Linked DNA regions of Homo sapiens: all the other regions are linked to region 2. Evidence: fine-mapped expression QTL. A gene starts in region 2. Each other region holds a variant in brackets. All regions are shown on one strand. Distances are from middle to middle. Region 1 overlaps C20orf203 (chromosome 20 open reading frame 203). Region 2 holds the start of C20orf203 (chromosome 20 open reading frame 203). Region 3 has its middle 39 kb from the start of NOL4L-DT.

What was found.
Region 1: its variant is fine-mapped to the expression of C20orf203 in ovary (GTEx, PIP 0.97).
Region 3: its variant is fine-mapped to the expression of C20orf203 in testis (GTEx, PIP above 0.99).

The regions. Positions count from the first base shown.
Region 1 is chr20:32,630,856-32,635,092 of GRCh38, reverse strand. C20orf203 (chromosome 20 open reading frame 203) reads left to right here. Exons shown (of 6, transcript NM_182584.4): 6 at 823-3,468. Among named protein-coding and RNA genes, the nearest start is that of C20orf203, 41 kb to the left of the region's middle. The variant A/G (reference allele first, on the strand shown) is at 1,940.
Region 2 is chr20:32,671,771-32,676,007 of GRCh38, reverse strand. It overlaps C20orf203 (chromosome 20 open reading frame 203), which reads left to right and starts at 2,067. Exons shown (of 6, transcript NM_182584.4): 1 at 2,067-2,376. RefSeq lists enhancers at 1-448, 1,300-1,369, 3,320-3,819.
Region 3 is chr20:32,623,899-32,628,135 of GRCh38, reverse strand. No RefSeq gene overlaps it. Among named protein-coding and RNA genes, the nearest start is that of NOL4L-DT, 39 kb to the right of the region's middle. RefSeq lists a silencer at 744-813. The variant C/T (reference allele first, on the strand shown) is at 1,704.

The DNA of each region.
Region 1 (4,237 bases), 41 kb after region 2:
GAGTAGCTGGGATTACAGGCATGCACCACCATGCCCGGCTAATTTTTGTATTTTTGGTAGAGACAGAGTTTTGCCACATGGGCCAGGCTGGTCTCAAATTCCTGGCCTCAAGTGATCCGCCCACCTTGGCCTCCCAAAGTGTTGGGATTACATGTGTGAGAGACCGCGTCTGGCTGAAATTATTTTTAAAAAGGAACTACAACCCCCAGGTTAGTCCATCACCAGAGATAACCACTGTGAAGCATTTGACACATTTCTTCCTAATATCATTTCATATATATATATATATGCATATGTAGGTCTCCTAATAAAAAATAGTTTGCCTCTTGCTGTCTTTTACCTACAGTTACATCAGATGCATTGTCTGGTGCCTTTAAGTAGTCTCTGAAATCTGACTCCTCAGCCTTTTGGATGACTCCAGCCGGTGGTGGCCCTTTGACAAGTGTGGCCCCTTCTCGTGGCTGGGCACAGAGGCTGTTTCACTCGTTTTCTGTGATAAAAACACCGCAGTAAACATCCTCCGTCCTGCGTAACTTCATGTCCACATTGCTGATTGTTTTGTTGTGTTTTTTTCTGATAAATTTCTGGACATGAAATTCTCGGAAGCCCTGCTGGGCCCGGAGCTGGCTAGGTACTCGGGAGGGTGCTGGGCTTCCTAGAGCCACGCGTCCACACCTGAGGACAGCTTGGACCCAGCTGTAAGGAACAACGTGCACTTCTTGAATGTCTCACGCTGTCTTCCACCGCTTTGTCCATGATGTCACAGTACCTCTCGCCTCCCCTCCCAATGCCTGTCTTGCTAATTCTTTCTTATCTTTCCAGACTCCAGCATAACCTTCTCCAGGAAGCTTTTCCAGAGCCCCCAGGCTAGGAACCTCCCCCCAACCCCTGAACTCAAGCCCCAGCAGCCCGTGCCTGCGCCATCTCCATCAGAGCTGCATCTCTCTGGGTCTCTGGGTAACAAGTGCCATTTCTTTGTTGTTTTCTGTGTCCCCCAAGGACAAAGCTCAGGCTGGATTCATCTCGGAATTCCCAACACCGGGGTAGAACTGGCTCATTTCAATTTCAGTCAATGTTTGTTGAGGAAAGGAGTGAAGAGTTGGACACATGAATGAACGCATGAAACAGTCCGGAGTGGGGAAGCTGAAGCTCAGGCATCAGGATCCGGGAGAAGCATCCAGTCCAGGCGGACGGGGTGGAAGGTTCAGAGCAGGGGCCCCAAGTCAGGAGTAGGGAGGCAGACGGCAAGACCTCCTTCCATGAAAGGAGGCTGGGACCAGGGGACCAGGTAGTGCAACGCGGTGAGGGGGCTGTCAGGGCGACTGGCCGGAGGAGTCAGAGGCAGGAGGCACCACCAGGTTACAGACAAGGACCTTCTACAAGAGGGAAACGTGTCATGGGCTCTGGAGCCCCTGTCCAGGTTCAAATTGTGACCCTGTGCCAGGGACAGCTTCTTTGTGCCTCAGTTTTTCCCATAAAATGAGGATAATAATACTTCATTCATGCCTTTTTTTCCCCTCAACAAACATTTGTTGTATGTCTGCTGTGGGCCCAGGACAGGAGGCTGAGAAGGAGCTGACCACAGTGGTCACACAGCCAAGCCCTGCTGCTGAGATCTGACCCCAGTTCGCCTGTCACAAGTTCTATCTGTGCCTCGTTGTCTGCCTCCTGGGGCTGTTATGAGGGCTGAAGAAGGGGCAGGCACAGAGGAGACACTTACTATATGATCATTGTCCTCCTAGAGTATCATCACCATCAGGTGGACTTCAGTGGCCATCCCAGGCCTCCACGGATCAACCACAAGATCTTGGAGAATGTCCTTACCCTCCAAGCCTCAGTTTACCTTTAGGGTGACCAACCATCCTGGTTTGTCCAAAACTGAGGGTTTTCCTGGCACAGTCCCAGGCAAACTGGGATGGTGAGTCACTGATATAGTTTG[A/G]CTCTGTGTCCCCACCAAATCTCACCTTGAATTTTAATAATCCCTAGGTGTCAAGAGCAGGACCAAGTAGAGATAATTGAATAATGGTGGCAGTTTCCCCCATGCTGTTCTCATGATAGTGAGTGAGTTCTCACGAGATCTGATGGTTTTATAAGCAGCTTCCCCCTTTGCTCAGTATCACTCTCCCTCCTGCCGCCCTGTGAAGAGCTGCCTTCCACCATGATTGTAAGTTTCCTGAGGCCTCCCCAGCCACGCAGAACTGTGAGTCAATTAAACCTCTTTTCTTTATAAATTACCCCAGTCTCGGGCATTTCTTCACAGCAGCGTGAGAACAGACTAATCCCGTCACCCTGGTTTCCTCATCTCTAACACAGGGACCACCTGCCTCCCAGGGCTGTTGTGCAGAACAGAAATAAGCCTATGGAAAAGGCAGAAAACCATGGAGCCAGAATTCTAGATCTGGTTACATGAATACTAAAGACTTTTGCATGCCATGGAATTCTAGGCATGAAAAAGAACGAGGCGGTCCCGTGTACTGCTGTGGAAGAAGCTCTGAGATACATGTTTTTTTTGTGAAAAAGGCCAGATACAGCGCACTTTGTGGGGAGCGCTTCTGTTAGTACCAAGGAGGGGGCAGGAACACACGTGCATGTGCTCCAGTGCGCACATGGGTTCTCCCGGGCGGGGACTGGGGGCTGAGGAGAAAAGACTTGTTTTTCACTGTACATCCCTTTGCTTTGTTTGAATTATTTTACCCCTTTGTTTTCAGTAGCTGGCCGAAAAACTTCCCAAGCTTCCATGTGTCAAAAAGAACTCACTGAACGAGATTTAAAGGCCAAAGTTAGGGAGTAGGAAATGTGTCTAGCTCAGGGCCCAGCATCTAAGGAGTGCTCCATGAAAGGCCTTCTCCCCTCTCCCACTCCTGACCTTGCTGACTGCTGGGAGTGCAGGGGCACAGACGGGCTGTTGCCTCCCCCAGTGCGGTATTTGTGAGGCTCAAATGCAAGCCCAGGCTGGGGAGACTGCTCTGGGTTCCACGCGGCATCCTGCCTAAGCCCTGGGGGTCCTAGAGGTCACTGGCTCCCTTCTCTGCCTGCATGTCTCAGGTCGCCCTCTGGCCAATTCTGAAGTCCTGCCCTGCCTCAAGGAGCAGAGGTGGCAGAGGTGGGCCCACCGCACAGGGTAAATGTCCCGGTGTCACATACCTCCAGATTGCAGGGACCTGCGTATGCTACTGCTGCTGTGGAAACCAGCTCTCTCTGGCTCTGGCCTTGGGGAGAGGGAGCCACAGTGGATTTAGGAAGAGTCTCCAGATGTAGCTTGAGACTACCAAACAGGCCTGACCCCCACAGACCCTGCCTCTTATGAGCGCCCAGACTGAGCCCTGCTTCAGGCTCCCAGCCATGTGGCCAGCTGCTTTTCTTCTTTAATTTTTAGCATCAGACGAATATTTCAGGAAAATATTCTCATTGTAAAATCTCAAACATTAATAAAATGTAGTGAATAAAAGGCCATGTAATTCCTCTTTACCTCCTGAGCCCCATTCTGTTTAAACCATTGTTGTCAGCTGGTCAGTGTATATACCTATACCTATGCCATGCCTATACCAATACCTATACCAATATCTGTAACTATACCTATGCCACTACCTATGCCTGTGTCGTGCCTGTACCAACACCTATACCTAGACTATCTATATTTATATCTGTTTAGATGTGCATATTGTGTTTAGGTATGCGTCTCACGTGAGTAGTAACATTCTGTATGTTTTGTTCTGCAAGATGCTTTCTTTTTCTTTTTCTTTTTTTCTTTTTTTTTTTTTTTTTTTTTTTTTAGATAGAGACTCATTCTGTTGCCCAGGCTGGAGTGCAGTGGCTCAATCTTGGCTCACTGCAACCCCTGCCTCCCAGGTTCAAGCGATTCTCATGCCTCAGCCTCCCAAGTCGCTGGGATTACAGGTGCACACCACCACACCCAGCTAATTTTTGTATTTTTAGTAGAGGCGGGGTTTCACCATGTTGGCCAGGCTGGTCATGAACTCCTGAGCTCAAATGATCCTTCTGCCTTGGCCTCCCAAAGTGCTGGGATTACAGGTGTGAGCCACCGCACCCGGGCTATTTTTTTTTCCCCTCCCTCCCTTCCTCCCTTCCTTCCTCCCTTCCTTCCTTCCTTTCCTCTTTTCTTTTTTTCAAACAGGGTCTCACTCTGTTCCCCAGGCTGGAGTGCAGTGGTGTGATCTCGGCTCACTGCACCCTTGCTTTCCCAGGCCCAAGTAATCTTTTTACCACAGCCTCCAGG
Region 2 (4,237 bases):
GGGAATTCGGCTGGTGGGGAAGGTGGGGGAATGGGCGTGGCGTATTCTAGGCTTAGGGATCCCAGGGCTGCGGGAGGACAGCCAAAGCTGGAGCGCCAGTCGTGCAGGCCAGAGCTGATGGGGCTTTGCCTACCATGCCAGGTGCTGCTTCTGGAGGGTGGGGCAGGGGGAAGGATTTGAAATGAGGTAGCAACAGCACAATCAGAATTGTGTTGTTCAAAGGCCTTCCTGTCACGGGGAGAGGATAGGCCACCACAGGTTCTTTCCTATCTCCCTCTTTCCCCTCCAGACCTTACCCCTTCTAAAATGGAGGCATTTTGTTTGTTTTCGCTCAGAACCCAGTTCCTCATGAACTGTCATTGTAAATAGACCGGAGGCCAGAACAAAGGAAGATTTTTTAAAATTATTTTTTCCTCCTTTAAAGACTAGCTTAATGAGAACTGCTGACATGGGGTAAAGTACAGCACGCCCAAGCTGAGAGAGGTGTGGGGGTACCCTAGACTGGGAAACTGAGGCCCAGGGAGAAGCACTGCTGGGCAAGGAGCATCCCTCTACATCCCAGGTGGGGTGGGCGCTCCACACACCAGTGTGATGGGAAAAGTGGAGGTGATGAGTGTCCTCACCTGGGCACAGCCTGGCCCTCATGAGATGGAACGTGCAGGGAGCCTTTTGGGGGAGGGTTCAGGAGGAGAACTGGGTGGTTTGCCCAGGAACTCAGAAGGAGTATTCCCTAGGCGGGTGGGTAGCGTGTGGAAGGACACCTGAGGCAGACAGAAGACACAGAGACCCAAGGGAGAAGGAAGAACGGCTGGGTTTAGAGACGTGGACGTAAGTGAAAGGGCAGAGCCAAGGATGCAGCAGGACAGGAGGGAGGGGGTTAATAACACACTTGAAGCCCACGGTCCAGGTTTGATTTCATTTAACTTAGTTTACTCTGGACCCCTGAGTCTCTCTCAAATTTGAATGGCCTTTTTTTCCTTTTGAAGGGGGATTCTTTAGGAGGAAGGGCAGAGAGGGCACCAAGCAAGTAGATACTGTCTCTAATAAAAGTTTTGGTCATGGCCAGGCGCAGTGGCTCACTCCTGTAATCCCAGAACTGGGAGGCCCGAGGCAGGAGGATTGCTTGAGCCCAGGAGTTCAAGACCAGCCTAGGCAAAATGGCAAGATCCCTATCTCTACAAAAAAAAAAATAATAATACAAAAATTAGCTAGGCATGGTGATGTGCACCTAGTCCCAGCTACCTAGGAAGCTGAGGTGGGAGGATTGCTTGAGTCTGGGAGGTCGACGCTGCAGTGAGCTGTGATTGCACCACTGCACTCCAGCCGTGGTGACAGAGTGAGACTCTGTCTAAAAAAAAAAAAAGGAAGTTTCGAGGGTGAGATGAAGTAAAAGACTGGAATGTTCTTGAGACATTGGGCTAGAGATTGTCATTTGTTTTTGCTACTTAAATCCAGGTGCTCTGGGCTAACCTGATTGGGCCCCTGATGCAAAAGCGCCTCCTGGTGGGTGGTTCTGAAAACACTGAATACTTTCCTCCCCCTGCCACCCAGTAACAATATTAATAATACAAATACAGCATTTTTTTTTCCCTGCAGAACAAAATTCCTAGAAGCTGAAGGGCTGAGTTGCTGAACATGAGCATTTTACTTTTAGGCAGATTACATCAAAGTCTCTTTCCAAAAAGTTGGCACCAATTGGCACCCCATTTTTGGTGCATTTAAATATTAAACACCAAGATGAGACTGGATGGATCCCTCTCCTGAAATGTCCTGTCCATAAATGAAAGAGCTGGGGCCAAGCTCACGGTGGCTCACGCCTGTAATCCCAGCACTTTGGGAGGCCAGGGTGGGAGGATTGCTTGAGCTCAGGAGTTCAAGACTAGCCTGGGAAATATAGGGAGACCCCTGTCTCTTAAACAAACTTAAAAAAAATGGCTGGATTAAACGACAACAACAGTTTCAGGGACCCAGTCTTTTCTGAACAGTGTCTCCCCCGCTCAGCTCTCACAGATCATTGAGGTGGGCGGGGTTAGACCCATTGACAGTTGGACCTGCAGGGCCAGGTCACATAGCCAGTGGGTCTGAGCTGACTTTTCTTCCCAAGCCTGTGTGATCCCCAAAACCCTTGGCTGCCCCCACTCTGCCCCCCGCCTCCCAGCCCTTCCAGCTGCAGCCTTTTCACTCATTCCACCACCACTCAGCTCTGAGTGGCTACGCTGGCGGGCTCTCTGCTTTGCGTCGGAGACATCACAGTGAGCAAAGGCAGATATGTTTTATGTGCCCTTGAAGAATCTCCCAGACAAACGTGTCATTGCAGTCGGAGCCAAATGGCCGGGGCAGGTGGCACAGATGAATGCCGGGCAGAGGAGCCTGCAGGTGGGTGGAATGCAGCCTGTCTGTGCTGAAAGTGTGGGGTGACCCTGGGGTTTTAAGCAGGGGATGGTGACCAAAAAAGCCAGCAGAAAGACCAGTGTGTGGTTTTGAAGCTGCTGCCCTAGACTCCCTGTGCCTCATGTGTCCCTTGGAGCTCCACCTGGGTCTCTGTGCCCACGGGGCTGCGGTGAGGCTCCCCGAATGTGGGGACCGTGTGGCCGTTGAGCCCATCTCCGGCAGCTATGGCTGAGGCGCCAGCCACTTCCGCCCTGTGCTCTCTCTGTGGTTGGCTACGGGGGCTGAGACACCTCCGGCCAGTCTTGAGGGGAGCAGGAGGAGGCTGCTGGACTGTCCCCCATGGCAGCCACAGGGCCTCTTCACTCCCTCCTGCCTCTGTGGCTCCAGGGGCCCAGCTCAGCCTCTTCCTGCCGTTTGTACCAGCCCTGGGGCTCCTCAGGAGGGCGGGCTTGTCGCTTGTTCCCCCAACCCTGCAACCCCTCCACTTCCTCTCCTCACCCGCCCCAGGGTGTGAGGTGGGACACAGAGAGATGCCCAGCCCTTACTACCAAGGAGTCTTGGGTCTTGAGGGGGCTTCTTTTATGGCCACTCATTTCAGCCCCTAGATCCTGCCAGTCCCATATTCTTCACTCCCTGAGGCCTTCTGGCTCTCAAAGCCCGAGTCTAGTGCCTTCCTACCAGCCATCTTCACCAGGCCCCTCTCCTATGCTGGGTCTGTTTAGATGCAGGGGCACAGGGAGTAGGAAAAGGTCTCTGCTGCCGGAGCCCACAGCCCTGTGGGAAGACAGCAGGGCCAGGTGGCAGTCAGGGAGAGAAGCACTTTTCTGGAACTGTGTGAAATGCTGTGAGCTTGGGGGAGGCAGGGGAGGGAGTGGGGAGGGTAGAGGAGGAAGAGTCCCAGAACAAAAAGGCCTGGTGTGGTGAGAAATTCAGGAGGGAATAAAAGGGAACAAGAGCAAGAAATAGAGACAGGCACACTGTGGTTCTTGGTTTTTCCCACAAAACTAAAGCTATTTAAATTGAAGAAGTATTTTTTTTTTTTTGGAGATATTGTCTTGCTCTGTCACCCAGACTGAAGTGTAATGATGCAATCATAGCTCATTGTAACCTTGACCTTCTAGGCTCAAGCAGTCCTCCTGCCTCAGCCTCTTGAGTAGCTAGGACTACAGGCATGCGCCACCACACCCAGCTAATACATATGTATGTATGTATGTATGTATAATATATATGTAATATATTTTATGTGTGTGTATTTATTTTATTTTATTTTATTTTTTTGAGACAGAGTCTTGCATTGTCACCTGGGCTGGTGTGCAGTGGTGGGATCTCGGCTCACTGCAACCTCCATCTCCTGGGTTCAAGCGATTCTCCTGCCTCAGCCTCCCAAGTAGCTAGGATTACAGCTAGCTACTGTAATAGCTACTGGGCGCCCACCACCATGCCCAGCTAATTTTTTGTATTATTAGTAGAGATGGGGTTTCACTGTGTTGGTCAGGCTGGTCTCGAACTCCTGACCTTGTGATCCGCCTGCCTTGGCCTCCCGGAGTGCTGGGATTACAGGCGTGAGCCACTGCCCCGGCTCCTCTTAAATTTTTAAGTGCACGCTACAGTATTGTTAACTATAACCACAATGTTGTGCAGAAGACCTCCGGACATTTTTATCTGTGTGACTGAAACTCTATACCCATTGAACAGCAACTCTCTGTTCCCCACTCCCCCTCAGCCCCTGGCAACCCAACCCCCATTCTACTATTTTTTTTTTTTTTTTTTTTTTTTGGAGACAGAGTTTCACTCTTGTTGCCCAGGCTGGAGTGCAATGGCACGATCTCGGCTCACCTTAACCTCC
Region 3 (4,237 bases), 48 kb after region 2:
CTCTCCCCTTGGTGCCTCCCCTCCCCAGCCTAGACCCCTTCCTTTCCCTCCCGCCCTGACGCATCCTGCTTCCAGGCTGGGCGAGGGGAGTCCTGGTCTGTGTTTTCTCGATCGAGTTAGCTACTCAAAATCATATCTGTGTGTCTCCTGAGGGGGTCCGCAAGCCCCACAGGCAGAGGCACACCTGCGTCACAGTGGGGGCCCTGAGCTCAGCCCTAAGTGGCTCCTGAAATGCTCTCTCGAGGCCTGAATGAATCTCCTCCCCCGGCCACCCGGGGCAGTTGGGAGTGTGAGACCTCAGGCTTGGCCCGGCAGAGCTATATTTAGACACCAGGGCCAAGGCGAGCTTCTGAGGCTGAGGAGGTGGCGGGGCCCACAGTGGGGCCCCAGGGGAACCGCCTCATCGAGGGGACCGTCCCTAGGTGACAGGCCAGAGCCCATTCTGGCTGCTTTGGCTTCCACTGCCCCCAAAACGGCAGAGGAAGGATTCTGTTTGAACAAAGGAGGTTCTCTGGCTGGTTTGGTGTGTGTATTATAGCTGGAAAAAATAAGTTCTGGGCCGGCCGGTCAGCTCCAAGGGTGGCCCAGGGCTGGGGGGCCAGGGCGAAAGTGGGGGTTTCCTGGCCAGCCCCTGGGCTGGCTCCTGTCTGCTGCAGCAGCCTGCATGGCTGTCCTCCCCACTGTACCTCGGGCAGGCATCGTGCCAGGCCAGGGTGCGGCTGCCCGGCGGGTGAGGAGGGGCTGCCCTGGCCCCGCTGCTCGCTGCCCGGCTCTTGGGGCGGGCTGGAGGCAGGATGGATGTTCGCAATAATTACCCAGCTGCAGCTTCCCCAGAGCTGCCGCCATAGCAACGGTGCCGGGCGCCCCAGCCGGCCAAGTGGCAGGAGGGGGATGTGGGCACTGTGGGCAGGTCGGGGAGTGGGGTGGCACGAGCCCCAGGCACAGCCCCACTGGCTCCCTTTGTCAGCTCCCTCACTGGCCCACCCCTTCCCCGGAGGCCGGGGGAGGGGGGCTTTGTCTGGGCATAGGGAGGTTGGCACAGCCCAGGAGAGGCTCCGGCAGACGCCCCATTCCCACTGCCAGGGCCCATGTGGCAAGGGGAAGCAGGTGTCAGGAGGGCTGGGAGCGCTCAGGGTCCCCATGGCTCAGGGTTCAGTGGAGGGTGTGCTGTGCCCCACCTGGTGGCCCCCACACACCCCGGGTCCCCTGGTCTCATTGTGCACAGTGCTGTCTTCTTTCTCTAGAAGGGAGTGTGTGGGCACTGGGCACTCCCCAGGGAGGACTCCACTCACCCTGCCTTGCAGGGGTCCTCTTGGAGCAGGCCTTGGGCAGAACTGGCTTTGGGTGGGGCTTTACCTGTGGGGGAGGCCCTGGGGACCCCCATAATCCTGCCCTCATGGTACCCGTCCCCTCTCTCTGTACTTGGAAGCCCTGACAGTCCCTCCCTCCTGTGAACATTCAGTCTGATGAAGAGACTGTGGTTAGCTCCATTTTCCAGATGGGGAGACTGAGGCCAGAAAGGTCTAGGACTTGTTTGGGATCACAGAGCTCAAGTCTGTGGAGCCCCAACCCCGTCCAGTGTTGCCACCATGGTCATCTGGCAGCACAGCCTAGTGGTGACCGAAGAGTGCAGGGCCTGCAACCCAGGGGCCTGGCCAGCCTTGCCCAGCTTCAGTTTTCTCCTCTGTAAGATGGGGATGGAA[C/T]TGGAGCTCTCTGTATGGGGTTGTTGCGTGGATTCGAGGAAACTGCACGGAAGGCGAAACGCCTGGCACGTGGGCAGTGTTAGCTGCTGCTGTTGTTGTTGGAAATATTATTTTTTATTATTGTTGTTACAACACGTGGGGGCGGACCTCGATGCTCACCAAGGTCCCTTTTGGCTCTGGTCTCCTGGGGCGCTCCGGGTGGGCGCTAGTCACCACAGGCATGCTGGGAAGTGGGAAGCTCGCAGCCTACTGAGAAGGTGGGTGTTAATCCCCTGATCCCACAAGTGCGTCTGGGCGTGGGCTGGGTGAGAATGAGGTAGGAGACACAGGACTGAGGCGGAACCCGCGCTGTGGGGGTGAGACCCTGTTTATACAGAGTGATAGGGGCCTGTCCTGGGGGTCGTCCTGGAAAGGTCAGAAGAAGGGCGTTCTAGAAGGTGGTCTTGCTTGAGGAACCAAAGGGGAGCCAGAGTCCTGGAGCACAGGGAGGGACAGAAAGGGACAGGGAGACTGAGGGTGGAGCGGTCCACTGGGGAGGACTGGGTTCCTGGGGCTTCGAGGGCCACCCATGGAGGACAGGGTTGTTTTTGAGACAGTCTTCCTCTGTCACTTAGGCTGCAGTGCAGTGGCACGATCTCGGCTCACTGCAACCTCAACTTTCTGGGCTCAAGTGATCCTCCCGCCTCAGCCTCTCAGATAGCTGGGACTACAGGTGTGCGCCACCACACCTGGCTAATTTTTGTATTTTTTTTTGAAATGGGGTTTTGCCATGTTGCTCAGGCTGGTCTCGAACTCCCGGACTCAAGCGATCCTCCCACCTCGACCTCCCAAAATACTTGACTGCACCTGGCCGAGAGATTTTGGAGTGATTCTAGAAGCTGGGGAAAGCTAGCAAGGGGCTTTAAATAGAGTAGGTCAGTATGCATGTGTTGAATGAATGGGTGAATGAACAAATGATTGAATGAAAGCTTTATTCTGCCTTGGCCAACCACAGAGCCTCTCTCCCTCCACCTTTCCCTCCTTCCTGTCTCATACCCCTTCCCTCATCACCCCAGCCCTCCCTGGCTGGCTCAGTTTTGTCATTTATAGCCACTGCCCCTAGGAACCCACAGTCATATGGTGGAAGACTGACAAGTAAAGGGAAGAATTCTAGTGCAGCAATCTGGCCAATATGGAGGAGGGTTCTGAGAAAGGACAGCTGACACCAGGCCAGTCAGGGCATTGCCTGAGAGGGGTGTTGAAGGATTAATAGGAGTTCACTAGGCTGCCGAGGCAGAGGACGCAGCATCTGCATAGGCTCCGCAGAGTATGCTGTGGGAGATTTTTAGTCGTTTCATGGGGTAGTGACAAATAAGGATAGCTACATTTATTGAGCACCCACTGTATATCCTAGTCCAGTGCTACACACATGAGATTATTGGAATCGCACAATTGAAACCCTGCTCCCCTTGTGGCAGAGACCTATTTCACTTTCATGGATGAGAAATCAAGGTTCAGATAAGTTAAGTAACTTGCCCAAGGTCACACAGCAACTACAAAGCCTATGCTCTTAATGACCCAGGGGGTGGTAAGGGGTGGGTTGGAGAGACAGGCCAAGCTGGAACAGGAAGGATCCTGAAGGCCAGACTAGGGTGTCAAGACCTAATCCTGGGGCCACCAGAGGCCCATGGTAGGGTTTTGAGTAAGGGCAGGAGGTCTGGCCTGTGTTTGAGACAAAGACTCTGTGGCCTATTTGGAGGGTGTACAGGGTAGCTGAGACTAGCCTGGAGGCTACTGCAATAGTCCAGGCGAGGGCTGACCCCAAGGGGGACATGCTTGGTGAAGGGGAGGAAGGGATGTCTTTAGGGGAGACAGTGAGACAAATGCAAGACCAGGGGAGTGGGCTGAGGCCACTGGTTGAAGTGCAGATCAAGATCAGAGTTCGGGTCCGATAAGTCTAACAGGGAGTTCGGCTCCGATGAGTCTAATAGGGAGTTGATGCTCTTTCCTGCTTTCCAGCCAGTTACTATTTCCTTGATATGTAAAAGACCACATTTTCTGGTCGAGCATGGTGGCGGGTGCCTGTAATCCCAGGTACCCAGGAGGCTGAGGCAGGAGAATCGCTTGAACCCGGGAGGTGGGGGTGTAGTGAGCTAAGATCGTCCAAACTGCCCTCCAGCCTAGGGGAGAGAGGAAGACTCGGTCTCAAAAAAAAAAAAGACTTCACATTTTCTCCTTTGTAAAATTATAGGCATTTTTTAAAAGGTAAGTGGGAGAGGGAGGGTAGTTCTTAACCCACAGTAGAGGGAGGGTAGTTCTTAACCCACAGTGGCGACAATGGCGCTGGCTGCTGGTGGCTCTTGGGCCCAGTGGTGCCACTGGGGGTTTTCTCCAGAGTCTCCAAGGCCCCTAACAGGCCAAGGGCAGAAGGCCTTGCTCGTGGTGGCAGCGACCTTCAAGTGTGCATACGGGACCCGGCATTTGTGAGGGGTCCAGCAGGGGTCAGACTGCCCTAGATCCGTACCAAAAGTTGCTGGGACCGCAGAAATTGGAGA